Linked DNA regions of Homo sapiens. The protein of the gene in region 3 purifies or fractionates together with the protein of the main gene of each other region. This does not show direct contact. Each region holds a gene or a part of one and is shown on either strand. Other genes may lie near its edges. The genes, in order: FRAS1, DCAF8, PODN, ZNG1A, RCN2, SPSB3 and LRP5.

Region 1 (3,500 bases), on a different chromosome or scaffold from region 3:
TTTAAAATAAGACTATCCTCAAATAATTTTATTGCTCTCCACAGCATTACCTTCCAAAGTCAATTTCTTTTCAAAGCTCCAAAGGAAATCAAGCACCTTAAGAAGTATCTGAGTACCCATATCAAAACCTATTTTTGGAAGTTTAGATAGCCATGATAAACTCACTGCAGTATGAAAAAAATAAAGTAGCACTGAGTGTGGCACCACATCTATACCTGGGCAAGCCATGCATCTGCTGGAGACTCAAGCCAAAATGGTGTAGAGCTGCTGAAAAATTATATCATTAGGAAAAGGAATTAATTCAATTTGGGTTGCTTTGTATTGTACAATTCCAAAAGAAATAAGCTTTGCCCTCTGAGAGCTTTCCTAAAACAGAACAGTTCTACCTGGAAGGCAGCTGCATGAATGAGCCTCCATTAACACAGCTTCCAAAACCTCATTTCTACTCTCTTGAGAAAAAAAGCATTCCAGTGTGATGCCCAGTTCTATCAAACATTTATCATCACCCAATACCAGATGCAGCATCCAAAGGAAGCATATTTCTCTCACACACCCACCAGCAGATGAAGTTGAGGGGTTTGTTGACATGGGTACTGGGTGTAGCTTCTGGTTGAAAGCCAGAGTGGAGGTCTTTTCACTAATCCGTCAGTTCACATAATATGGAAAACAAAATTCATCTCTCGACTCATTATTTTTTTTTCTTCAGGAGTACAAGAATGATTGCAGGTCTATTTGACGTTTATATTTATGGCAGGGAACTTTAAAGAAAATTCCAGCTCAAGGTGAATTCTGTGAGAGAGTGCTGATCTAGAAGAAGAAATGAGCCTCCCTCAAAGGAAAACTGAGGAAAAACCGGAGACAACAGGAGTAGTTCTCTAACTATGAACAATGCCAATTTCAAGGCACAGAATGCAGCTGAGATGCCAGGTAATTTAAGTTCTAACACCTCACAACCTGTGAGAAAGAGCATAAAGTTTTGCAGGGTGAAGTAATTTTATAGTGTCAAGAAGGAAGCCCAGATCCTGAGACCTGAGCTGCTCTTTTACTGTGTGGCTGGCTCATTTCTTGCAGGTCACACAGAAAAAACGTTACTGCATAAAATTTAAACAAGTAAATGTCTGTTTTTAATCCCTTTTGCACATTATAATATACGCCTTTATGAGATGACTGTATAAAATCTAGTATTTTTGGAGAAATTTTGAGATATAATTTGCATATATTCTGAAACCGTTGGTAAACTGAGTAAATTAGAGAAGTTAAATCCAAGCACCACAAAATGTCAGACCCATTAGTTCAAAGAAATAGTGGCAGATACAACCATTAAGATACAAAAAGATTTGGAGAGCATGGTACCACAAGAACATGACTCATTAGGAACAAGCAGCCACAAGTTGGCATTTAAATGTTCAGGCTTTATGTTGTGTTATAATTCAGCATATGGCTGTGTGCACTGTGGAATACTTAAAATAGAATCATTTTCTGAACTGACAGGACAGCTCATGTCCTGATTATTGTCAACTAGGATTTAGATCAATTAATAGAGTAGTTAAAATGAAAGTGGGCCAACTGTTTTGGAACTACGGTAAGATTTGGCATGAGGCTCCAACTTTGACATGTGGTAGTCCCCTCCCCTACTCTGAGCCATGTGTTAAAGAATATTTTATGACTACTTGTGTGAGTACAGTTGGGTGACATTGCCACCCAAGTCCATAACAGTGAATACGGATGGCTGGGTCCTTACTAAAGGATGTACACTATATAAGGAGAGTAATGCCCAGAATCCAATCTTCAGAGGGCAATGGAAATATAATTGATGAAAATAAGAGTCCACAACAACACCTCTTTATTTCCATTGCCAGGTAATTACAAAAGCCAAAGGATGCAAAGTTACAACCATCATCTAACGTTTCCATACTGAGAAACCCACCAAGGACCAAATGTTCCCATATCCCTACTGCTATTCAACTGACATTAATGATTTCTAGATATGCAAACTCCTTGAGCGCAGGAGGTTTTTTTGGCTTTGGTTTTGATGTCTGTACCCACCTACTGGACATAACCTGACACAGAACCTCTCAATAAAGGCTTGCAGAATAAAAGAATTAGGTTACTTTTTTCCAGCCAAGTTCTTCTCTTCCCAACATTGAGTTATTGAGTTTCAAGCATAGAGTCTCTCAGTGAAACAACTCTGCAGCCCAGAGTGCAACTACCCTAACTCACCCATAAATAAAACATATTGTCTATCAAATGAGCCTCTTCAATGTAACCTGTTAAATAGCATTTATAGGAAAAACCCGGGATTCAGCGTTTGTGGGAATGGCTAAAATCACATGGAGAGTGATGGGACACAGACTAAAGCTCAATTCTCTTAACCTCCAATTCAATGATGTTTCCCTATCCCAAGGCAACTGTCTTATCTACTGTAACTTCACAGGACTTCCATATGTCAACAGAACTCAAGATATTTCTCCAGAAAAAGCCATGGTAGAGTTTCTGTGATTCAGAAAGCAGCCATGTTAGAAGCTTCTTTGTGACTTCTTGATTTTATTAAGTTCTCAAGTCATAGCATTAATACTTTACCAGTTTAGCAATATAAGGCCATATAAAATAACACTGCCAATAATTTGCTTGTAAAAATTTATTTTTCTTTTGATATTTCTTTTGATAAAATTTAGAGGCCAGGCACAGTGGCTCACACCTGTAATCCTAGCACTTTAAAAGGCCAAGGCAGGCAGTTCACTTGAGGTCAGCAGTTCAAGACCAGCCTGGCCAACATGGTGAAACTCTGTCTCTACTAAAAATGTGAAAATTGGCTGGGCATGGTGGCGCACATCTGTAATCCCAGCTACTCAGGAGGGTGAGACATGAGAATCGCTTGAGGCCAGGGGGCAGAGGCAGCAATGAGCTGAGATTGCACCACTGCACTCTAGCCTGGGTGATAGAGCAAGACTGTGCCTCAAAAAAAAAATAATAAAAATAATAAAATTTAGAACCAGAAAATTGCAATTGACCACTAATAATGCAGCAAATACTGATCTCTTTTTCTTCTATGTTTGATGATTAGCCAAAGTATCTTAGAGCTATCACGTAATGTACCTCATTTAGTAAATGACAGAACTATAGCGCAAAGAGGTTAGATGGTTCATTCAAGGTTAGTGAGCTAATCAGAGGCCAGTCCACCAGTTAAGCTTAATTCAAAATAATATAATTTGGCAATACTGTTCATCTGACCAATTTTTTGAGCACTTAGTGTATACTAGGAGCTGAACTGAAGATATCAGAATTAATAGGAGCCATCCTAACCCCTCAATAAGCACACAGCTAAGTGAGGAAGACCAAACCCATACCAACCACAATTGTTCTCTCTGTGCACTGAGAAGAAAACGACAAATTCTGCCATAAGCTGGTCAGCAAAGGTGTCACAAGGTACATCCCATCAAAAGAAGTATACATGTGAATGTCTCTTTTCTATTTTTAAAAATTATTCTCTAGGCTGATAA
Region 2 (3,500 bases), about 110 Mb from region 3:
TTGTTTGTTTGTTTGTTTTTTGACGAGTCTTGCTCTGTCACCAGGCTGGGGTGCTGTGGCGCGATCTCAGCCCACTGCAACCTCCGACTCCCTGGTTCAAGCGATTCTCCTGCCTCAACCTCCCGAGTAGCTGGGATTACAGGCATGCGCCACCATGCCCAGCTAATTTTTGTATTTTTAGTAGAGGAGGGGTTTCACCATGTTGGCCAGGGTGGTCTCAATCTCCTGACCTTGTGATCTGCCCGCCTCAGCCTCCCAAAGTGCTAGGATTACAGGTGTGAACCACCATGCCCGGCCAAAGAGTTCTTTTTTCAGCTCCACAGCTGGACCGTCTTAATAATATGACAGCACAGATGAAGAGTTTTAAACCTTTTGTTGGCTTTTCTTTCGTATCTTTTTGGCAAGGGCACATGAAAATTAAGTACTGATAATATCACAATGAAAGCAGCTGTGTCATTCAGACCAGTGACCATTTTAGGTTTGATGAACTTTTCATTACCATCATCCAGGGTCTAAATTCTCCATTGTAAGGTAAGGATTCTCCAGGGTGGTGGTGAGGTGGGTTGAGATTGCATTTGTATCATTTGTGTTTTTATGAACTCTGAAGATCCATGTCGGGTGAAGGAAAGGATGGGAGGAGAAAAGGAAATACTTTGAAAGAGGGATAACTTGGACTGTTTATTTCCTTATGTGCTGGGTAAGAATGTCCAGGTGACATCTATATGTAGTAAATCAGTATTTCTAGTCTGTGGACCACACTGTAAACTTTTTATCTTTCTAAAGTTTTTTTTATTTTTGTAGAGATAGGGTCTCACTTTGTTGCCTAGGCTGGTCTCAAACTCCTGGGCTCAAGTGATCTTCCCACCTCAGCTGAGTAGCTGGGACCGCAGGGGCATATCACCATACCTAGCTAATTTTTGGTTGTTTTTTTTTTGTTTGTTTGTTTTTTTAAAGAGATGAGGTCTTACTTGCCCGGCTCAAGTGATGCTCCCATCTTGGCCTCCCAAAGTGCTGGGATTACAGGCATAGCCGCAGCACCCAGCTTGAAGATATTTTTATATTTCCAGGGTTTTAGGTGTTTACTTAAGAATTGTGACATCTTATTAGGTAGTATTTCCTAGGATGATTAGAGTGGGAGGCTAAGAATGCTTGTGACCTTTTAGTTCCCACCACCAACCTCTTAAAGTGCAGTCTATTTATTTATTTTTGAAATAGGATCTCACTCTGTCACCTAGAGTGCAGTGGCACTATCATGGCTCACTGCAACCTCGACCTCTTGGGCTTAGGTGATTCTCCCATCTCAGCCTCTCGAGTAGCTGGGACTACAGGTGCACGCCACCGTACCTGGCTAATTTTTGTATTTTTTGTAAAGATGAGGTTTCACCATATTGCCCAGGCTGGTTTCAAACCCCTGGGCTCAAGCAATCCTCCTGCCTCAGCCTCCCAGAGTGCTGGGATTACAGGCGTGAGCCACTGCACCCTGCTAAATGCAGTCAATTAAATGTATAAGAATCTGCCAGGCTGAGTGCGGCTGGCTCATGGCTGTAATCCCAGCACTTTTGGGAGGCCAAGGTGGGAGGATCACTTGATCCTAGTTGTTCAAGTCCAGCCTAGGCAATATTGAGACCTTGTCTCTACAAAAAGTTTAAAAAAAAAGCCAAGCATGGGGCAAGTACTTGCAGTCCCATCTCCTTGGGAGGCTGAGGTGGGAGGATTGTTTGAGTCCAGGAGGTAGAGCTGAGATTGCGCAGTGATCACTGCAGTGCGCTGAGATTGCGCCTCTGCAGTTTAGTATGGGCAACAGAGCGAGACCTAGTCTCAAAAAAAAGAATCAGTTCCAGTGCCATGGTCCTTAGTGTGGAGTAGGACCAACCTAAGACAGAAGCTTGTCTACAGAGAGCTGAAAGAAAGCAGCCTCTTTGTTGCCAGTTTAAAACAATACTGGCATTTTAAAAGCAAACAGATTCTAGTAGGAGACATTGTATAGAAGCGCACCCTGTTGTGAAAGACTGGGATCTTGAGTTTCGTGCTCTAAGTCTTGTATTCTATCAGGGGAGTAATAGGCTTTTAAAATCATAAAGTGACTATTAAAATGCTTTCAGTAGATAGATTCATTACTCCATTATTTCTACTGTATAAAAGTTTATTCTAAACATGTCTAGGAAATATCCAGATTATAAAAGAGAAATAACGGTATCCAAACCAGACTTTTTATTGCATAACATTGGTGTTAGAGTTAGTTTTTAAGTCTCTGAGATTGAATTAGCTTTTTTTTTTTTTAAAGCAGATTATCAGTGAGCTAAGATAATCTGCTGTTTACCCTCACCTATTTGGAACACAGGCAACTGAATTAATTGAATCAGCAATAGGCATGGGGTAGTGACTTTGTATATTTTCATTTTAGAGCCAAAAGCCAGTGAGTTTTAGATTAGCTTTATAGTAATATTAAAAACTTCATCTTTTATTTTTACAAATGTAGCCAAGAAACATCATTGCTGTTAAAATCAGTCAGAAAAGGAGGCTACTTGCTCTTTATTGATTTAGTCATTCTGCTCTTGGAGTGAGTAGAAAGTCTTTGAAAGCTTTTCAAAAATTAGCGAGTGATGAATTTTATGAATTAGTCACTTCTTTGCAGCAGTTTTTTTTTATCTCTACCTCTGTAGGACATAGTTCCTGGGCCAGAAGCCAGATTTCTCAAGTACCATCTAACCCCAGGAATGTGTTATGATACAGATAAATTAATGAACGGAGGCTGCCTTGAGGTTGCCAATAGGGCATTGGGGAGTAATTAATATGACAAAGATGTCATCTTATTAATGAAATGTATTAATAGTATGTCTAGTGGATTGGGTCAATGCAAACATTTTAGATTAGATATTTGCTGTTTATCCTCTGAAGTTACTGTTTAAGGAAGTCTGGCCAAGTTCTAAAGTGAAGCATACATATTTGCCTCACGTGCCATTTTTTTTTTTCTTCCTGGCTTTTTCTTAGCCATCTGGAAAGCTACTATAGGGTTTACCTCTAATGGTAGTCAAGTTACTGTATTCCTCTGGTGTACTTTAATGATTGCCACATTACCAGGTATGTTTTGTTAACCTTACTTAGAATCCAACATTAGACCCTTTCTTCTAACCTAACCTGTAGGAAGGCACTTCTTGAGGTTTTAAGCCTCTCTTTAATGTTTTATTGTAAGTTGTACCTTGGGAGCATCATTTTTTCATCTTAAATCCTCTCCAGTTTAAGAAAAATTTGAAATATAAATGGCAAAAACTGTTAATGGCAACAGACTTCTGATGTAAATGTAAATTGAGATGGAAACAAAATGAAAAGTAGATTTCCCTAGGAATTAGTTAAACTGAGATAAATGGTCCTGGATGTTTTTATAGAAAGTTCTCTTAGCCAGGTGCAGTGGCATGTACCTGTAATCCCAACTACTCGGGGGGCTGAGTTGGGAGGACTGCTTGAGCCCAGGAGTTTCAGGCTGGCAACATAGCAAGACC
Region 3 (4,023 bases):
TGTGTGGGGAAGAACAGGGGAGCTCCCTGGTCTCCAGGAGTTTCAAGTCCACCTGGTGAGGAACATCTCAAACCCCTGGACAGCGGGGAAGCTCAGCCAGCAGTGAGTGTTTCTCATATGGAGAGCTTTAGAGACAGAAGGGCATGGGTTCCAATTCTGACTGCTGTGTAAGCCTGGATGAGCCACTTTACTGCTCCGAGCCTCTGTTAACTAGTCTAAGAAATGGAGTTGGGAGCTACTTGTGAGAATTAAATGAAATAGCAGTCTCAGCCTGTCACCGCTGGCATCAAATAGGTGTGACATACCAGGGGTTACTGTTACTGAGAAAGTAAGTGGGACCCACTGTCTCCCCTGACCACTACCAGGGAACCAAACCTCAAGGCCCAAAGTGTGAGGTTAAGGTAGGACTAGAAGAAGGAAGGGAAAGGGAGCCCCAAATCAAGAGGCGGATCCTCAGCCCTCAGCACTACCTTCCTTCTCCACTCAAAGTCAGTACAAATCAACTGACCACCTGCTCTGTGCTGGGCCCCAAACAGCTGCATCTTATTGACTCTAATAGAAATCCTGGGACTACATGTTCGTCTTTCTATTCTGCAGATTTGGAGCTCAAGCACAAAGGGCTGGCATTGCTGCCCATCCCTAGAAAGCTCCTGCTGAAATGCCCCTGCTCAGGGAAGCCTCTCCTGCCCCCTTGGCTGGGTTAGGGTGTTTCTGGGTGCTTCCACAGCAACCTTGGCTGGCTTTATCCTTCAAGTCTCAGCTGGGCCTCCCCTGTCTCCCCAAGCATGGAGTGGGGGTGCTGGGGAAATGTTTGCTGAATGAACGACTTTGTGAAAGGCAGAGTTGGAAAAGATCTAAAGATCTGCAGTATGATCTGCTCTGACTCCCCCAGTTTGCAAATTAGTGTGTTAAAGCCAAGGCCAAGAGTAAAATGTGGGTCTTCTGACTCCTGCCCAGAGCCTTGAGTTGGCCTTGAAGACTGAGCGGGAGTTCTCCAAGTGGACGGAGTGGGAGAAACAGCCCTCCAGGCAGAGGTAGAGTGTGATCAAAAGGTAGGGGTGGGGCTAGAGGAGAGGGACGTGTGTTTAAGGAAGGGTCAACAGGGCGGGAGGCCTGGGTGGCCAAGGGCCTCCACCGCCATGCTAGTGTTGGTGATAGGGACTCATTAAGGGTTCCAAGCAGGACACGGCCAGCACTCGCATGTATGACTACACCAAGCCTAAAAGTGCCACCATTAGTAATCCCCTATCCTAGACTCAGACAGAAGGGATAAAGTGTGCTCCCACAGATGACATGAAAACAGTCGTGTGACTCTGACATTTCTTAACTTGCACTCTAGGCTAGAGTAGACTGGGTCTTGGGCCCTAAGAGTGGACATGAGGGAGCAGAACCCCCAGAGCAGTCCCCCCTGGTCTTTCCCAGGGCAGTCCACGGGCTCTTCTGAGTGACCTACCTCGGAATGCTGTGCGCCTGCAGATCAGCCGGCCTCCTTGCTCACCATGAGCCCTCCTGCCTCGCCGCTGCCTTCCCAGTGTGGAAGGTTTCTATATAAAGGAGGGATAGGGGACGGGACCACCCAGGGGCTCTCCCGGTTCACACCAGTGGCGCCTCGTGGAGCAGGGCAGACCACAGCTTCCCCTTCCCTGGCCAGCCGGTAATCGAAGGGCAGACAGGTCAGTAATTCACTCCAAGCGCTGGGTGAGCATCCTCCGCGCCTCCCGGACCAGCTCAGTCAGTGCCGCGCGCACCGGGGCCGGGGTGCTCGCCCCTTGCTGCCGCGCCTGCTCCTCTCCAAAAGGCTGCGGCTGCCTCTCCTAGCCCCAGCCCCCGAGGCTGCCAGGAGCCTCGCAGCCCCGCCACCACCTCCTCTTCCACCTGACGGAGCGTCAGGTATTCCAACGCCAAGATCTCGTCCCCCGCCCCAGGCCGGGCTGTGGCTCGGGGACCTGGAACCTGGGGCTTCTGCCTCATTCGCAGGAAGGCGCGGATCTCGCTCCTCGCGCTTCGCGGACCCCCACCCCTTCCTCCCTCCAGCTGTCCCGGCTGGGAAGCAGCCGCGTAGACAGATAGACGGACTCCAGACCGCCAGCTGAGACCTTTAGCTCAACTAGTGGTTGGCACTAAGCTGGGGCGGCACAGTGGCCGGGGAAGCCGAGCCCCGGAGGGGACCCACCCGGCGTCCGACGCGCCCTGGGGCCAGACCTCTGCCCCTCTCTGGGCCTCAGTTTCTCTATCTATAAAGAGGTGGAGGTTGGAGTCGCTAGGGGGCCTGATGAGTTGACGTGGAAAGACGCGGGGATACTTCGGGCCCAGGCTCTCATGACAGGGGTCCCCGCCCCTACGCAGTTCCACCTGCCCCCCACATTCCCTGTCGCCCGCCGGCGTCCTCCCACTCCAGCCCCCGCCCCCAACCGCCCTCAGATTCTTTCCAGATGTGCGCAGCGGGAGGGGCCTGGGGACGGGGACCAGCCTCTGCTCAGAGAGGAGAAGGCCCCTGCCTGGGTCCTGACTGCGCAGGGGTCGCACTCCAGAGGAGGAGATCTCCGGCCGTGCCCTGGGTGCAGGGTCCTACAGAGGGGGTGAGATGCGGCGGGCCCGCCCCAGGCAGCTGCTGGAGCCATCCGGAGAGGCGGGGACGTCTGAGTGCGCTGCCCGGGCTCAGCCCCCGGCCCCTCGGCCCACCCCGGCTGCCAGCGCCCTGTACCTGCTGCGCCCCGGCGCCGAGCGGCGCCCCACAGGCCGAACGCGCTCCCCCAGTCTCAGCTGCGCTCCGCGGGCTCGGGCTCCTTCCATTCAAGTCAAGCTGGGCGCTCTCCGCGACGCAAGTTTTGTTGTGGGTTTTCTCCTCCCCGCCTCTCTCCCGCCCCCTTCCCCCACTCCCCACCCGCCCCGGGAGCATCTGCTGGACGCCGGCCTCCTTCGGACACAGGCGTAGGGTCCCCCCAGGCGCGGGCAGGAGAAAGCCTGCCCCTCCCCGCTCGGGACTTGGCCGGTTCCCACTTCCCGGGGAGGCAGAGCCGCCGCACCGACCCCTCTCAGCCCCGGCCGCCGCACCACGCCCCCCGAACCCCCACCCGGGAGACCGGGAAGGCGGGCTGTCTGGTCCGCGACGCTTCCTAGTTCCCAGCCTTCCGCACTGGAACTGGACCCCCTTTAGGCCCCGACACCTGAAAGGAGGGCTGGGGAGAGGGGTCCTTCGACCCAGTGCCTCTGAGCTGTATCTTCCTCATTACAGAGGATGTTGCAACCGCTCCAGGCACGAGTACCTTTCCGTTCACTCTCCCACCCTGGGGTCCTGGGCCGTGGCTAATGGGGCCGCCAGCCAAGACCCTGCTGGGCCTCTTCCCGGAAAAGTTCCCCACGCTCCACCCCACCCTCCACTCCCATCCCTGTTGGCCCTGGGCCCACAGCCTGGTGAGCCTTGAAGAATGGTAAATTGGGCCGGAGTCGGGGACATGCAGATCCCAGTCACAGAGAAACAGGGCGGGTGAACAGTGAGACCTCACACCACCATATTGCTCCCAGGAACTGAAAATGTTTCCAAGTAAAGGAGTATTAACTACTACCAGCTGAAGCAACACTGTTTGGCGCCAGGGGCTTCGGCGGTGGAACAGGCAATGCGGCTGGGCTTAGGTGGTACTTGGCACCTCCACTGTGTAGCAAGCCTCCTCCCCTTACCTGCTCTGGCCTGTGGGCAGGGCATCCACAGCTGCCTCACCTGGCTGTCCTCCCACTGAAGAGGGAGAAGGATGCATAAGTCACACGTGGGACCCCTTGCTCAACCTTAACCTGAATGAATGAATGAATGAATGGCCCCTGTAAAGCAGCTCCAGACTTTTCACTGGCTGCCGCCCCCGTGAGGTTATACCATATGCATTATGCTCTGCTTCACAACTCCGCAAAGGAAGAACTGCTGCTGCCCCACTTTATAGAAAAGAGATGGCCTCAGAAAGGATACTTGACTGAGTAAAATGCCCATTCACTGGCAGAGCTGGGGTTTTGACCCCAGGTTTACCCTTCTCC
Region 4 (3,500 bases), on a different chromosome or scaffold from region 3:
GATGTTTTAGGAACAGAACCTAGAGAAAATGAAAGTCAAAATTTAATAAAAGAATTTGTCAGGAACTTCAAGGTAAAGACTCCATGTATTTTTTGGCAACTATAAAACACTAAGAAGGCTTTTTAAATATTAAAAAGCCATTTAAACACTTCAAATTAAGATTCCTCAATATACTTCAGATTTCTGTACTGAGTTACCCTCTCGAGTGTTTGGAAGTCTTTTCTTCCTCATTAAGCAAACACTTACACAGTGTTATCATGGCTTTGTATTCTTAGTTTTGAAGACAGGCAAATGTACTAGCCAAATATGCCAAACTAACTTATTAAGAGCATTCCAAACAACATTTTGGATCCAATTCTTTTTAAATGCACTTAGATCTTTCTTATATTAGAATCAAGCATATTTGTCAATTATTTAATGTTTATTATTAATAACTAAAATGATTTGTTATTAATAGGAATAGCTTTTTTAAAGTACCTTGATCTTTGTGTTTCTAAGATTTGTCCTAGTCCATTTATGGATCTGAAATAAATAATAAATGAGGAAGACAAAGTTTAAAAGTAAAAATTAACTTTTTAAAAAAGTATACAAAGTATATTGTTTCTAAAACAGGAAATAAGCATACCCAAATACATCTGGAACCAGAAAAAAATTAAAAACAGAAAAACAAAACTTGCTTTAAAAAATAATTGTGATTTTCCTTCAAACAATAAATCACATATATTCCACTCATACATTAATAAAACATATATGCAAAAATTCGCACAACTGTCAGATTAAGGGCTACTTTGTGGTTAATAAAAAGACACTTCACTTTAGAAAAAATCATTCATAAATAGTCAGTTATCCTAGTGTTCTTAAAAATGAGTAGATACTCAAAATTTTTACGGTGGTCACTTTTTTCCTCAGGCATACATGGTAGAAATGGCTATATACACACTAAAAATAAAAACCTAGTTGCAAGTTGCTTTGCCCCCAGCCTGTCCTTAGTATTCACAGTAATTCTAAGTCACACATCCCAGGTTCCTTTATAGAATAACCTCGTCAGTTACCTAATTAGGCTCTCTACCCGTTATGCCTGTTCTCCCTCTTTTGATACTATAGAATATGGCTTCGTATGGCACCAAAAAGTACCTGTTAAATTCTTTTCAACACACTGTACACCTCATCTATTTATCTTTTCCATTGCCTATCATCAATCATCAATTCTCTATCATGAATTCAATTGTCTTTAGGGTTACTTACCCAAGATTCTTGCTACTTGTTCAAGTTTGTTCTCATGGGTAAGGCTTCCCACATATAATGATTCTGAGGCAAGTCTCTCCACTATTTTACAAAATTCTTAAATCTTCTTTTTTGAATACACTCTAGTCTGATGGCTAATTCCTCTCAAACATGTTTACCTTTTTTCACCTCCCCAAATATCATTCTGAGTCAGTCACAAGTCTGATATAAAGGGAGGGTAAAAGCCAAAAGGGTGTGTAATTTATCAAATTGCTTCTTCCAAATTCATTTCTAGTACTGTTAACAAGCTGGCTAATAGTCAATATTGTCAGTGTCAGAGATTTAGCTTAGGTCTCTATAAGGATATAAAAGTCAAGTAATAATTATCATTCCTTTTATGCCAAAAACATTTGCTAAATAGATTGTGTTCTTCTTAGCAATCACAATGGTGCACAAGATTTATGAAGAGAAACAAGATTAGAAGACCAGTGTCAAAAAATGTAAAAGCAATCTTCATTCATCACTTTCTCCTTTTCAAAATCAGCCATCTTTTTCTTTCTTCCCTTTTTTACTATACCTTGAACTTACTATGTAAGCTAAGAAAAAAATTACATAATAATAGCTAACAGAGCACTTACTATGTGTCAGCACTGTGCAAAGTTTACCAACATTGTCTCATGTAATACTCAAAGCAAACTTATGATAGGCATTATGCCTTTTACAGAGGAGGCTTTAAAAGGGTAAATAAGCTCCCTAAGAAGACAATGAGAAACAGACCAAGGATTAGAACCCAAGCAGATTCCAAGGTCTGTGATCTTCAACACTACGCAACAATACCTACCCTCCACGTGGAGACATTATATTTTTTTATAGTAAAGTTTAAGGACATTACTATTAAAATAAGATGAAATATGTGGAAAAAATATGAATTTCTTTCTTCCACAATCATTAATCATGGCAAATAATCTCCTAATGAGCCTTACCTTTATTGATTCAATTGATAATATATACTATATGAACTGAGATGACAGATTCAAAATCTAATGTCAGTAGAACTTATAAATACTAAGAATAGTAATTTTGAGCCATCACGCTCAAAGCATTGTACACATTAAAGATAACCAATACTAATAGCTACCGAATGTCTCTCTGTATAGGGCTTTTATTAGTTCAGGTCTTACAAAATAATTCAAAACAAAGCCCCTGAACTATAACCTCATTTGAAAAGCCCATCTTTGTTTTCAAAAGGAATGGGAGTCTCCAGAACAGTCAGCAAAATGACTGTTAGCACATATTTGAGCATCATTCATATTGTCCTGATTGTCCTATGCTGATCAGCCTTGGCTATGGACAAAGAAGATATTAAAGCAAGCTGGAAGACAAGGCATGGTTGACAGTTAAGGAAGATGAAGTCAACAAGAGTTCAGGGAAAACTGAGACCACTTGAGTCAGGGAAGACTTCACATAGGAAGGGGGGAGAGACAGAATAGGCTCTATAGAATAAATTAAAAAAAAAAAAAGCAGAACAAGAAAGAACTCAGGGATTGGCAGAGTGAGAATACATTACGAGTAAAGACAGGAACTGACAGGATGCATCCATGGGAAAGTGAATTAACCATCCTGGGTAAAGTTAGGGAAGACTGACATTAGGAAAGAGTCAAAGAGAAGACAGGAAAAGAAAGATGGAGTGCGAAGACCCTGAATATCAGTCTATTAACTGTGAACTATATTCTGCAAGCACTGGGGACTAATTTTATGTATTACCATTTATATAACAATTAGCCATCAACAATATATGTGATTCCCTAACGTTCTTGAAGCAGCTCAACCTTATACCTTAAGTTTCTACAGGGCAACAATCAGAGTAAAAAATATTCTGTGTATACAACATGGATCTGTAGGCACTTAACACACTTATCATTTCGTACCTAATTGTCGTTCTTAATTTCTTTACATCTTCTTCTGGAACCAGGTCTGTTTTATTAATGAGAATGGCATCTGCCAAAGCAACTTGTCTAAAATAGCAAACAGAGAAATGTTAAGAAACTTTAAATAATATACACGCATGCAGATTAATACATCAAAAGAGGAATGTTAACAAATCAAAAATAAATAAAAACGCCTCATGTAGATCAATATATCAGTTAAGAATTATCTAGTGCTCTATAGGAGTGACTCAGTTTACTCCTAATCCGCTAATTTTTCAATGTGGATGAATTGTGTTCATTACTATGCAAGTTCAGATTTCACATTACCCATTCGCAAAGTATTTACTA
Region 5 (3,500 bases), on a different chromosome or scaffold from region 3:
GCTTTTTCTGGTTCACATTTCACGGCCATTTGAAGAACACAAAATAAGAATAGCTCACATTAAATCGAAGAAGCCAAAAACAGAAAGACTGTTTTTTACAAATGGCAAATTCCTAAAAAAATAACAAAAAAGATGGTCAGTTTCATAAAACTTCAACACTCTTTTTTTTTCTTGTATATAAAAACTTTGTATTCTAGTAGAGGGTAAAAAGTGTTAGGTACAGTAATAAAAAAGCTACCATAATCATTTATTTTTAGATTACAACAGAAACTTGTGAGGAACAAAACTGCCATCTTTTGGTAGACTAATGATTCTACATGAGGAAATATATAATGTGTGATACTAGAACAAATGACTAGGCATTAAAAATTCTGATTAGCCACATGCAAGGTTATATCTTACATAAATAAATACTGCTTATACATGCACATTCAGCAGTCACGCCTGTAATCCCAGCACTTTGGGAGGCCGAGGTGGGCAGATCACCTGAGGTCAGGAGTTCGTGACCAGCCTGGCCAACATGGTGAAACCCCATCTCTACTAAAAAATTAGCTGGGCATAGTGGCACACGCCTGTAGTCCCAGCTACTTGGGAGGCTGAGGCAGGACGATTGCTTGAACCTGGGAGGAAGAGGTTGCAGTGAGCCAAGATTGCCCCACTGCACTCCAGCGTGGGTGACAGAGCAAGACTCCGTCTCAAAACAAAAACAAAAACAAAAACAAAGAACACTTGAACTTTTGCCAGATAGATCCCCAAACTTTAATTATCCTGTGTTGACCATAACTGTTCTTTATATTATAAAGAAATGCTTCTTCAGGCATTTCACAGCCTGAAAGGGTTATCTTTATTCCCTATATGAAAACTTATTAAATATAAGATAAAATTCAGACTGGGCATGGTGGTTCACGCATGTAATCTCAGCACTTTGGGAGGCCAAGGCAGGTGGATCACTTGAGGTCAGGAGTTTGAGACCAGCCTGACCAACGTGGTGAAACTCAGTCTCTACTAAAAAAAACAAAAACAAAAACAAAAATCAGCCAGGTATGGTGGCACGTGCCTATAGTCCCAGCTACTCAGGAGGCTGAGGCAGGAGAATTGCTTGAATCTGGGAGGCTAAGACTGCAGTGAGCCGAGATTGCACCACTGCACTCCAGCCTGGGTGACAGAGCGACACTCCCTCTCAAAAAAAAAAAAAAAAAAAAGGTGAAGTTCAGATATTAAGCTGACTTTCGTCAGTTATAACAGACTTTCTTATAGAAAACTTTATTTTATTCACATATCCAATTACTTTTTATGATTATTTTATTTATGGTATAGTGTTTAGTCTATAACTTTGAGATTGATTCATTCCTCATCCGTTATTTTTTATTTAGAAAAATAATGCATATGGTTTCTGGGTTCATCTTTACACTCCACATCAATTTTTAGGACGTTATTTTTTTTTTTTAAAGGGACAAGGTTTCACTATGTTGTCCAGACTGGCCTCAAATTCCTGGGCTCAAGCAATCCTCCTACTTCAGCCTCCTGAGCAGCTGGGACTACACATACACACAGGAAGTTACTTATAGCAAATTCTAAAAACATATGATTAGAACTTCATGAAGATAGAGACATATTCCTAGGCTGTCAAAAAAAAAAATAACCAAAAGGACTCCCATTGAAGTGTTCATTTTCGGGATCAATCTATTCCTTTAGGCTGTTAAGATTCATCTAATTCATCCTTTAAAAGCAGAGTGTTATAATCAACACATTCTAAGTAGCTGGTGGAGAACACAGAATTAGAACCAGACACCTTTTAAAAGAACTGTTCATAAACAATTTATGAGTCATGTATCTCTTCAAAGTGAAGATTTTCTTCTCAGCACCATCTATTACATCACCCCCTTCTAAGAATACAGGAACATGCACTTCTTATTTTTTAATGGGATAGTAATTAAGTCTTTTGAGTAACAAAAAATAAAAATAGAAAACATAATTAGAATCTAATTCCAGCAAGATTTTAAAATACTGTATTTAACTTCTCTGTTGTTCCTAGGAAGGGAAACCACACCACACCATGCTTTGGTTTTAGATAAGTTACATTGGTTTAAGATAAGTTAATTCCTATAGTAAATGGGGATACTTAATAGACAGATGATCCCAAATCTCATTATCACTACTTGTTTTTCCTTTAGTATTTACAAGCAGTAAAAAGACTGATTTTTACTCACTTTAGTCCACTGTAGAATGAAGACCCAAATAAAAAGAAAACAAAAGATACATTTTCCCCTTAAAAAATAAAATCCTAACTAATCTAAAGCTGATAGTTAACAAATGCATAAAGTTTTAAAAAGTTGATTAAATATAAATTTATGTGAACTGTAAATGCTTTCTTCAATATTCTTTTAAATCAAAACAGAACTGCTTGCCCCTCCAACTGCTACCATTTATTAATATTTATCCACACTATTATAATCCTAAAGAGGAAATTTTTATTTATTTATTTATTTATTTATTTATTTATTTATTTATTTATTTTTAGAAATGAGGTCTCTCTGTTGCCCAGGCTGCAGTGTAGTGGCATAAATATGGCTCACCGCAGCCTTGACTGCCTGGGCTCGAGCAATCTTCCTGCCTCAGCCTCCCAAATAGCTGGGATCACAGGACGGACCATCATGCCCATCTAATTTTTAAATTTTGTTTGGGCATTTGTTAACTAGACAGCTTTAGATTAGTTAGGATTTAATTTTTAAGAGGAAAATGTATCCATAGGGACGGGGTCTTGCCACATTGCCCAGTTGTTCTCGAACTCTGGGCTCAAGTGATTCTCCCACCTTGGCTTCCCAAAGTGCTGAGATTACAGGTGTGAGCCACCACACCTGGCCTGAATGGGAATTATTATCCTCATTTTTGGAGATGAGGAAACTGAGGCACATGAAAGTTTAATAACTTGCCCAAAGTTACACAACCGTGAAGTGCTGGAGCTAAATGTGAAGCTAAGCAGACTGGCTCTGAGGATGGAGCCCCAAACCTCCACATTGATGCTGTAGTTATTAGCAGAGAATTAACCAACTTAGAGTTAGTGGTGGCTTACAGAGTTCAAGCGGCCAATATGATTCTAAATAAATAGCACACTTAGAAAGCATTTACCAAGGAGGGAATGGGGTGTTGTTTAACAGGTACAGAGTTTCAGCTTTCCAAGATGAAAAGAGTTCTGGGGATTAGCTGCACAACACTGTGAATGTACTTAACACTACTGAATGGTACACTTTAAAATGGTTACAATAGTAAATTTGTTATGCACTCCTCCCTCCATATTTGTGAGAAATTGGTTCCAGAACCTCCCACAGATACCAAAACCCAAGGATACTCAATTCCCTGATATAAAGTGGCATAGCATTTGCATATAACCTACACATATCTTCCCAAATATTTTAAATCATTTCTAGATTACTTATAAGACAAATTACAATTTAAATGAGGAGTAAATCATTGTTACACTATATTGTTTAATACAATAA
Region 6 (3,360 bases), on a different chromosome or scaffold from region 3:
GATCTCCTGCTGGACCTGGGCTCCTGACCACACGTGGGACCACCAGGACAGCATGCAGCCTTGGGGACAGACCAGACACCCTGGGCGGTGGGGGAGGACCCCCAGCCACATGTGGACCCTCAGCCTGGGTGGGTTCTCTGGCTGAGCAGGTCTGACCTCAGGGGAAGGGTGGGTGGTTGCAGGGGAAGTTTTAGGTAGCTGGGAGAAGAGGGGCTTCTGGCTGGCAGATGGCTGGCGGTTCCTGTGCTGAGTCCTGAACACGTAGGCCCCAGGGGAGGCCTCAGCAGCAGGGCTGTGCCCCCCCAACACACACACACACTCGGCAGGGACCAGAAGGCAGCTCCAGGGCCCCACTGCCACCTGGAGGCTTGGGGTGTGGCACCCTCAGCCAGAAGCAGTAGGGGACTCCCAAGGATGTGGAGGGGCAGTGAGGCCTGGGAGAAGGCCCAGGCTGCTCGCAAGCCCGGCCTCTGCACGGATACGTTTCAGCTCACGCCATGTGGGTGTTAGACATCAACTCTACATTTATTGCAGTCCTTTAAGTCTATGACGGCGGGGCAGCCGCTGACAGCATGCAGAGCAAGTTAGGAAAAACCGAGGCCCTGTGGGAACAGCAACGCGGGCTCCAGCCAGGCTCTCGTCCTCGCAGCCTCCCACAAGACCTGGGGCTCAGGGCAGCCGCTTCCCCACCCAGCACAGCAGCAGAGGGGCCCTAGAGCCCCCACAGAAAGGACTGTCCCAGCCTCGGGAGCAAGAGATGGCTCCCTCCGGACGGGCCTCATCCAACTCCGCCCTGGAGTGTGGCTGGAAGGAAGGGACAGAGAAAGAAGGGACAGAGGAAAGGGGCTGTCCCAGCCCAAGAAGGCAGTTCCACTGGGAAGTCAGTCAGGTCCGGCGGCAGCGCTTCCTCTGGCAGGGCCGAGGCTCGCGACTGCTGGGGTGGGCGGAGGTCGCTGCCTGGGGATCGGACACTGGAGCCTTGCGGCGGCTGCAACTCATGCTCAGGACCCAGCCCAGCTTGTTGTGTAGCACCTGCTTGAGGCCCGGCGGCAGCGGCAGACCCTCCAGCGTGTCTCCCGAGTCTGGCCGCAGCTGGCGCAGGCGGTGGCAGCACAGGTACTGGAGGGAAGTGGCGCTGGCACAGGAGCGGGTGACCTTCATGCTGCTCCGGGCCGCCGTGGAGCACACCATCGGGTAGAATCTCTTGTTCTGCAGCTTGGTGGCTGCCACACCTGGAAGGGAGGGGCCCAGCCTGAACCCCAGGCAGGGAAGGGGCCAGCTACTGGGCGCAGCCCCTCAGACCTCACGCTACAGTCACCCGGGTGGGCAGCTGGCACAGCTGAGGCAAGGCAGGGTGCACGCGCTGGCCCTGCCACTCCAGCCTGGCCTCACTGTCCCACCCCCTGGGACCCTGGGGCCTCAGGCTTCTGGGAGGAACCCTTTCAGAAAACCTCAGTGTCCCCTGGGCTGGGGCGGGGTGGCTGCCTCCCTCGGGGTGACAGCTGAGAGGAGCTCAAGTCCTGTGACGGCCTCACCTATACACTTCCTGTTCTTGAAAAAGGTGAGTGTGCCGTGCCAGGTGTCCAGGTGCACGCCAATGATGGAGCCCTGGCCGAACCGCGATGAGAAGCTGGTCTTGTCGCCCTTGTGGTGGAGGAGGCCTGGGGGCAGCCAGGGTCGCAGTGAGCCCGGGAGCTCCAGGCTCGGCCCCGCCCCACCCTGGGCCTCACGCACCCGTGTAGGAGAGGCCCCAGCTGTCCTCATCCCTGCCCAGCAGGCTGCAGAACGTGTGGCGGTATTTGTCCAGGTCCACATCCGACGTCCCGATGCCCACCATCTAGGAACAGGGGCCAGGCAGAGGGCGCGGGGCTGGGCTGCCGGAGCCAGGTTCCCCAGAAGCACCCTGGGCCGAAGCAACTTACCATGTCGGTGCCGTAGACGGGAGAGGTCATCTTGATCTCCCAGAAGTGCTGGCCCTCCCCCAGCTCCTTGGTGCCCCGGATGGCCGCTGTGCCGCAGCTGTACTCCATGTGGAAGCTGACCTTACGGTTGTCACAGCTCAGCAGGGTGGCTGATGACTTATTTAAGTCATCCCAGACCCAGTCGAAATCTGCAAGAGAGGCCCAGGCTGGGGCAGCCCTGAGAGCTCCATGGGGCTCTGCCCTGCCCACCCCCAGGCCCGCCCGCAGTGCAGTCCCAGCAGGGGCTGGGCCCCACGCTCACACTCGTCTTCCTCTCCGCAGCGGCAGTCCCTGCCCCGGTGGGCCGAGTGCAGGCTGCTACAGAAGGAGGCCTCGCTCTGCCCAGCACAGTCACAGAAGGACTCGCCGGTCACGGGCACCGCACTGGGGATGGATGGCGGCAGCGTGGAGTACTCGGGGTCGGAGTCCGAGTCGCTGTGCTGGGAGAGAAGGGCCGGCTGTTACTACCTGTTGCCCGCTCTCTACCCTCTCACCCTTGCCCTCTGTCCCTGTCCCACCCTGTCCCTGACCCACCCAGGAAAGGATGGGGGTCCAGGCCTCCAGGGACTTCACAGTACCCCGAGCGCACAGCCCAGGCTCCCTCCCAACGGGCTCCGGCTCTGCCCCATTCTGCATGACCAGGAGGGCCCTGGAGGCCCAGCCACAGAGCAGTAGCCAAGGCTGCCTGGCCTCCAAGTGGTTTCTAGACGGTGGATAAGCCCCAGGTCCACCCCACCTGCCCAGAGCTGAGATGGTGTGGACACCTTCCCTGCTAGGCCAGCCCTGCAGGGGCCCCCAGGCAAGGCCACCACCCCCACACCAGGCCCAGCTGCAGCCACCCGGCCTCAGGGCAGTCCCCACCACACTGTGGCCCAACGACCTTCCTGTTACCTGAGCAGACCTGGCTCACCACAGGGTCCTACTGCCCAGTGCCCACTACAGGCCCCGCCCCTCCTGGTGCAGGTTTCAGCTGTCACCTCCCTGAGGCTTCTCCAGCCCCTTCACCCCTGTTCCATTTTTCTTCTTTTGCTTCACTGAAGTTCTCCTTGGTCCTGATTCTTGGCCTCCTCCCACCAGAACGTGAGCTCCTTGTGGGAGGCAGTGCCCCTCCCAGCCTCCTCCCTGTCACAGACTGTGTGGGGGCCACCCAGGGGCTGAATGGACCAGGGGGTCAGCAGGGAGAGTGCTAAGTGGTGGCGGGGGGCCTGTGGCAGAGGCCTTGTGACAGTGAGGGTTGAGGGCTGGTCCAGAGAGATGATGTGATCCCCAGGAGAAGCCACAGGGGACCATGACATGGGCGCCACCAGCTTCCAGGTGAACGTGGACCTATCGAAAGCCAGCTTCAGGGCAGGACACTGTCCTTTCTGGAGGGGATGGCCCCACCCCACAGACAAGGCAG
Region 7 (3,500 bases), on a different chromosome or scaffold from region 3:
CTCCCACCTCAGCCTCCCCAGTAGCTGGGAATACAGGCGCCTGCCACCACACCCAGCTAATTTTTGTATTTTTAGTAGAGACGGGATTTCACTATGTTGGGCAGGCTGGTCTCGAACTCCCAACCTCAAGTGATCAGCCCACCTTGGTCTCCCAAAGTGCTGGGATTATAGGCATGAGCCACCAAGCCCAGCCTGGTCCCTTTTTGTTTGTATTTTTTGTAGGGATGGGTTCTCACCATGTTGCCCAGGCTGGTCTCAAGTAATCCTCAGATGGTTACCATGGAGGGGAGGAAGGACTGTGGTCCCAGCTGTGGAGGCCCCTCCCCCAAGCCCTGGGACACAGCAAGGCAGTGGCAGGCAGAATCCTAAATGACCCCGTAATTTCCCACCCCAGTCCCCAGCACGGCGTCATGACCTTATGTGGCAGAAGGGATTCTGCAGATGTGATTAAGGTTATTAATCAGCCGACTTGGAGTCTATCAAAGGGGAGGCTAACCTAATCTAAAGGTGGCTGAGCCGAATCACAGGGCCCTTTAGAAGCAAATCAGAGAGACTCAAGGTGTGGGAGGGACTGACGCAGGGAGCCCCCACTGCTGAGGCAGAGAGGGCCACGGGGCAAGGACCTGTGGTGGCCTCTAGGAGCTGAGAGTGGTCCCCGACCAATAACCAGAGAGAAAACAGAACCTCGATCCCACAACTGCTACCTGCTGAGTGAGCAAGGAAGCTAATTTCTCCACAGAGCCTCCGCTGAGGGCCCAGCGTTCCTGACACCTTGATTCTGGCCCCGTGAGACCCTGAGCAGAGAACCCAGGTGAGCCACGCTGTGCCTGGACTTTGCCTTACAGAACTGAGAGACAATCCGTGGGTGTTGTCAGGCCAGTGGCTCACACCTATAATCCTAGCACTTTGGGAGGCCACAGCAGGCAGATAGCTTGTGCCCAGGAGTTGCAGACCAGCCTGGGCAACATGGGGAAACCCCGTCTCTACAAAAAAAAATTAGCCAGGTGTGGTGGTGCCCACCTGTAGTCCCAGCTACCTGGGAGGCTGAGGCAAGGTGTTCACTTAATTAAGCCCAGAGGTCGAGGCTGCAGTGAACTGTGTTTGCACCAGGGCACCCCAGCCTGGGCAACAGAGCAAGATCCTGACTCAAAAAAAAAAAAAAAAAAAGAGTTGGTGTTGTCTTAAAACGCTGTTCGTGGTGATTTGTTCTGCGGCAAAAGAAAACAACCTCAGAGGCCTCGGGACATTCGGACATGTCGCTGAACCCCAGCGGGCAACAGTTGGCATCTGGCAGAGACCACCGCCTGGCTGAGGCCACACAGGATCTTGCACTGGCCTCCAGCCTCCTCCAGGGGTCGGGTTTAGAGGCCACCCTGCCCACCCCACTGCCAGCCCCCACGTACAGAACTCCTCCAGGCTGACTTCCTCCACTGCATGGATGCCAGTGAGGTGGGCGACACGGCCCTGGATGCGAGTCCGCTTGTCCCCGGTGGTCTTCTCCACACGCTCGATCATCTGCTGCTGGCGGTCGATCCAGTAGAGATGCTTGCCAAGGATGGTCAGGCCCAGAGGCTGCACGATGTTGGCGTCCTCCAGGGTCAGGCGGTTGGCCCCTGCAAGCAGCCCGTGGGCCCCCCTGAGCAGTGCTGACCTCCAGAACTTGCCCCACACTCAGCTTGGGAGGACAGAGGTTGACAGGACTGCCAGGGAGCCTGGGGGATTCCATGCTTTGGACAGGGGTGGGAGCTGCAGCAGAGTCCCTGGAAGCAGGCCGACCCAAGACAAGCCCTCGGAAAGCCCTGCTCCCACCTGGGCTGGGCTCGGGATGAAGGCCATCAGTTCCAACGGCGGGCCTCGGTCACTGGCCCCTGCAAGCATGGCCCCTCCCTTCACCCATCTACCTCATCATAAGAGGAAAAGCCATGGGGACCTGCGCCCCCTCTCTAAGCACCAACTCTCATTTCTCTCCAGCCCTCGCAGCCTAACACAGTCCAGAGCAGAGCAGCTTCTTGCGCAGGTGCTGGGGGCAGAGGCTAGGCTGCAGTCCTGCTCCATCTCCTGCTGTGGGGCCCCAAGCAGCTCGCTCACCCTCTCTGAGACTCATTTTCTGCCTCTGCCCTGTGGGGCTCACTCAGAACCCCAGCCTACAGCTGTCAGTGTGAGGACAAAACACGCTACACACAAAGCCCCTGGCGCGGCACTGGGCTCACGGCAGGTCTCGGACAATGTGGCAGCTGCTGCCATTACTGACAATGAAGGCCGGGTGTCTGCGGTTAGGGCAGGCCCCGGGGCGCGTACCTGACAGGTCACAGCTCTCAATGCGCTTCAGGTCCGCGTCCACCCAGAACAGCTTGCCCAGTGTGTTGTCCACCACCAGGGCCACAGGGCGGATGAGGCCGGTGGTGAAGAGGACCTCGCGCTCGGTGCCGTCCAGGGCTGCGCGTTCGATCTTGGCTGCCCGGTCCTGCATGTTGGTGAAGTACAGGTACCTGCGGGAGGGTGGCGGGTGAAGGACGGGTGTGGGGATGGCGTCTCCTCGGACAGCACGGAGCCCAGGGCACCCAGCTGGGCTGTGGAAAGCCCCTGCCTCTCAGGGCTGCCCGAGGCTGACAGGTCACATTCTATACTAGTTGAACAATGCTCTCCAAATTCCCGCTCACCCCAGAACCTCAGAATGTGAGCTTATTTGGAAGCAGGGTCTTTACAAATGTCATGAAGGATCAAGATACGACCACAATGGGTGAGGGTAGGCCCTAAATCCAACTGAAGTGTCCTTCAATGGTACAGAAGAGGCCACGCCATGTGCAGCCAGACAGAGAGACTGGAGTGACAGGACCACAAGTCAAGGGGTGCCTGGAGCCACCAGAAGCCCAAAGGTTCCCTCAGAGCCTTCAGAGGGCGCAGGGCCCTGCCCACACCTCGATCTCGGGCTTCAGCCCTCAGGAACTGTGAGAGAACAAGTGTCCATTACTCTCAGCCACCTGGCTTCTGGTAATTTCTGACAGCAGCCATGGGAAACAGGTGCAGGCCCCCCACAGCTGCTAAGGACCCCGGAGCCCTGGCTGTTGGGAGACCAGCTCGGCTGGCTCCTGCACAGCCGCCTTATAGACCCGGGGCTTCCGCCCACCGAGCCCCCCGTGTGCTGCAGAGGCCGCACCACTGTGGCCGTCACTCCTACCAATGAGGAAACTGAGTCTCCAAGAGGCTATGCCACCCGCCCAAGGTCACGTGGCCAGTAAGTGACAGAGTCAGGGCTCAATCTCTGGGCTCCCGGCCCAGGACCTGTGCTGGCTGTAGCTCCCGTCTTCATGCCAGCCCCCCAGCTATCTGAGGAAGGCCATCGCGCTCCTGTCCCCAAACGTTCCCGTGCTCAGTTTGGAGCCTGAGTTTCATGTCACATGGGTTTCGGTCTCCCTCTTTCCCTGGCTTTTCTCTCTGGAGACCTCAAGGTCCTGGGTGCCTTCCCACCAACCAGAAGCTCTGACGACCAACAGGTGGGA

What was found.
Region 1: the proteins of PODN (region 3) and FRAS1 purify together in Homo sapiens (affinity purification with mass spectrometry; one large-scale study listed by BioGRID and IntAct). This does not show direct contact.
Region 2: the proteins of PODN (region 3) and DCAF8 purify together in Homo sapiens (affinity purification with mass spectrometry; one large-scale study listed by BioGRID and IntAct). This does not show direct contact.
Region 4: the proteins of PODN (region 3) and ZNG1A purify together in Homo sapiens (affinity purification with mass spectrometry; one large-scale study listed by BioGRID and IntAct). This does not show direct contact.
Region 5: the proteins of PODN (region 3) and RCN2 purify together in Homo sapiens (affinity purification with mass spectrometry; one large-scale study listed by BioGRID and IntAct). This does not show direct contact.
Region 6: the proteins of PODN (region 3) and SPSB3 purify together in Homo sapiens (affinity purification with mass spectrometry; 2 studies listed by BioGRID and IntAct, with this or other methods). This does not show direct contact.
Region 7: the proteins of PODN (region 3) and LRP5 purify together in Homo sapiens (affinity purification with mass spectrometry; 2 studies listed by BioGRID and IntAct, with this or other methods). This does not show direct contact.

Annotation. Positions count from the first base shown.
Region 1 is NC_000004.12:78,060,323-78,063,822, reverse strand, and holds part of FRAS1 (extracellular matrix organizing protein FRAS1 isoform 1 precursor), read right to left. Parts: intron 1-3,500. UniProt on the Homo sapiens protein: Involved in extracellular matrix organization. Required for the regulation of epidermal-basement membrane adhesion responsible for proper organogenesis during embryonic development. Involved in brain organization and function.
Region 2 is NC_000001.11:160,256,050-160,259,549, reverse strand, and holds part of DCAF8 (DDB1- and CUL4-associated factor 8), read left to right. Parts: intron 1-3,500. UniProt on the Homo sapiens protein: May function as a substrate receptor for CUL4-DDB1 E3 ubiquitin-protein ligase complex.
Region 3 is NC_000001.11:53,060,990-53,065,012, reverse strand, and holds the start of PODN (podocan precursor), read right to left. Parts: upstream 2,801-4,023; 5' UTR 2,705-2,800; intron 1,644-2,704; exon of another isoform or gene 1,454-1,643; intron 1-1,453.
Region 4 is NC_000009.12:151,557-155,056, forward strand, and holds part of ZNG1A (zinc-regulated GTPase metalloprotein activator 1A), read right to left. Parts: intron 3,240-3,500; coding exon 3,153-3,239; intron 523-3,152; coding exon 478-522; intron 1-477. UniProt on the Homo sapiens protein: Zinc chaperone that directly transfers zinc cofactor to target metalloproteins, thereby activating them.
Region 5 is NC_000015.10:76,938,249-76,941,748, reverse strand, and holds part of RCN2 (reticulocalbin-2 isoform a precursor), read right to left. Parts: intron 113-3,500; coding exon of another isoform or gene 59-112; intron 1-58.
Region 6 is NC_000016.10:1,776,212-1,779,571, forward strand, and holds the end of SPSB3 (SPRY domain-containing SOCS box protein 3), read right to left. Parts: exon of another isoform or gene 2,402-3,360; coding exon 2,224-2,401; coding exon of another isoform or gene 2,111-2,223; coding exon 1,923-2,110; exon of another isoform or gene 1,838-1,922; coding exon 1,735-1,837; exon of another isoform or gene 1,662-1,734; coding exon 1,536-1,661; exon of another isoform or gene 1,233-1,535; coding exon 886-1,232; 3' UTR 501-885; downstream 1-500. Other genes in the region: structure-specific endonuclease subunit EME2, read left to right, coding at 1-27.
Region 7 is NC_000011.10:68,424,091-68,427,590, reverse strand, and holds part of LRP5 (low-density lipoprotein receptor-related protein 5 isoform 1 precursor), read right to left. Parts: intron 2,490-3,500; coding exon 2,299-2,489; intron 1,614-2,298; coding exon 1,404-1,613; intron 1-1,403. UniProt on the Homo sapiens protein: Acts as a coreceptor with members of the frizzled family of seven-transmembrane spanning receptors to transduce signal by Wnt proteins.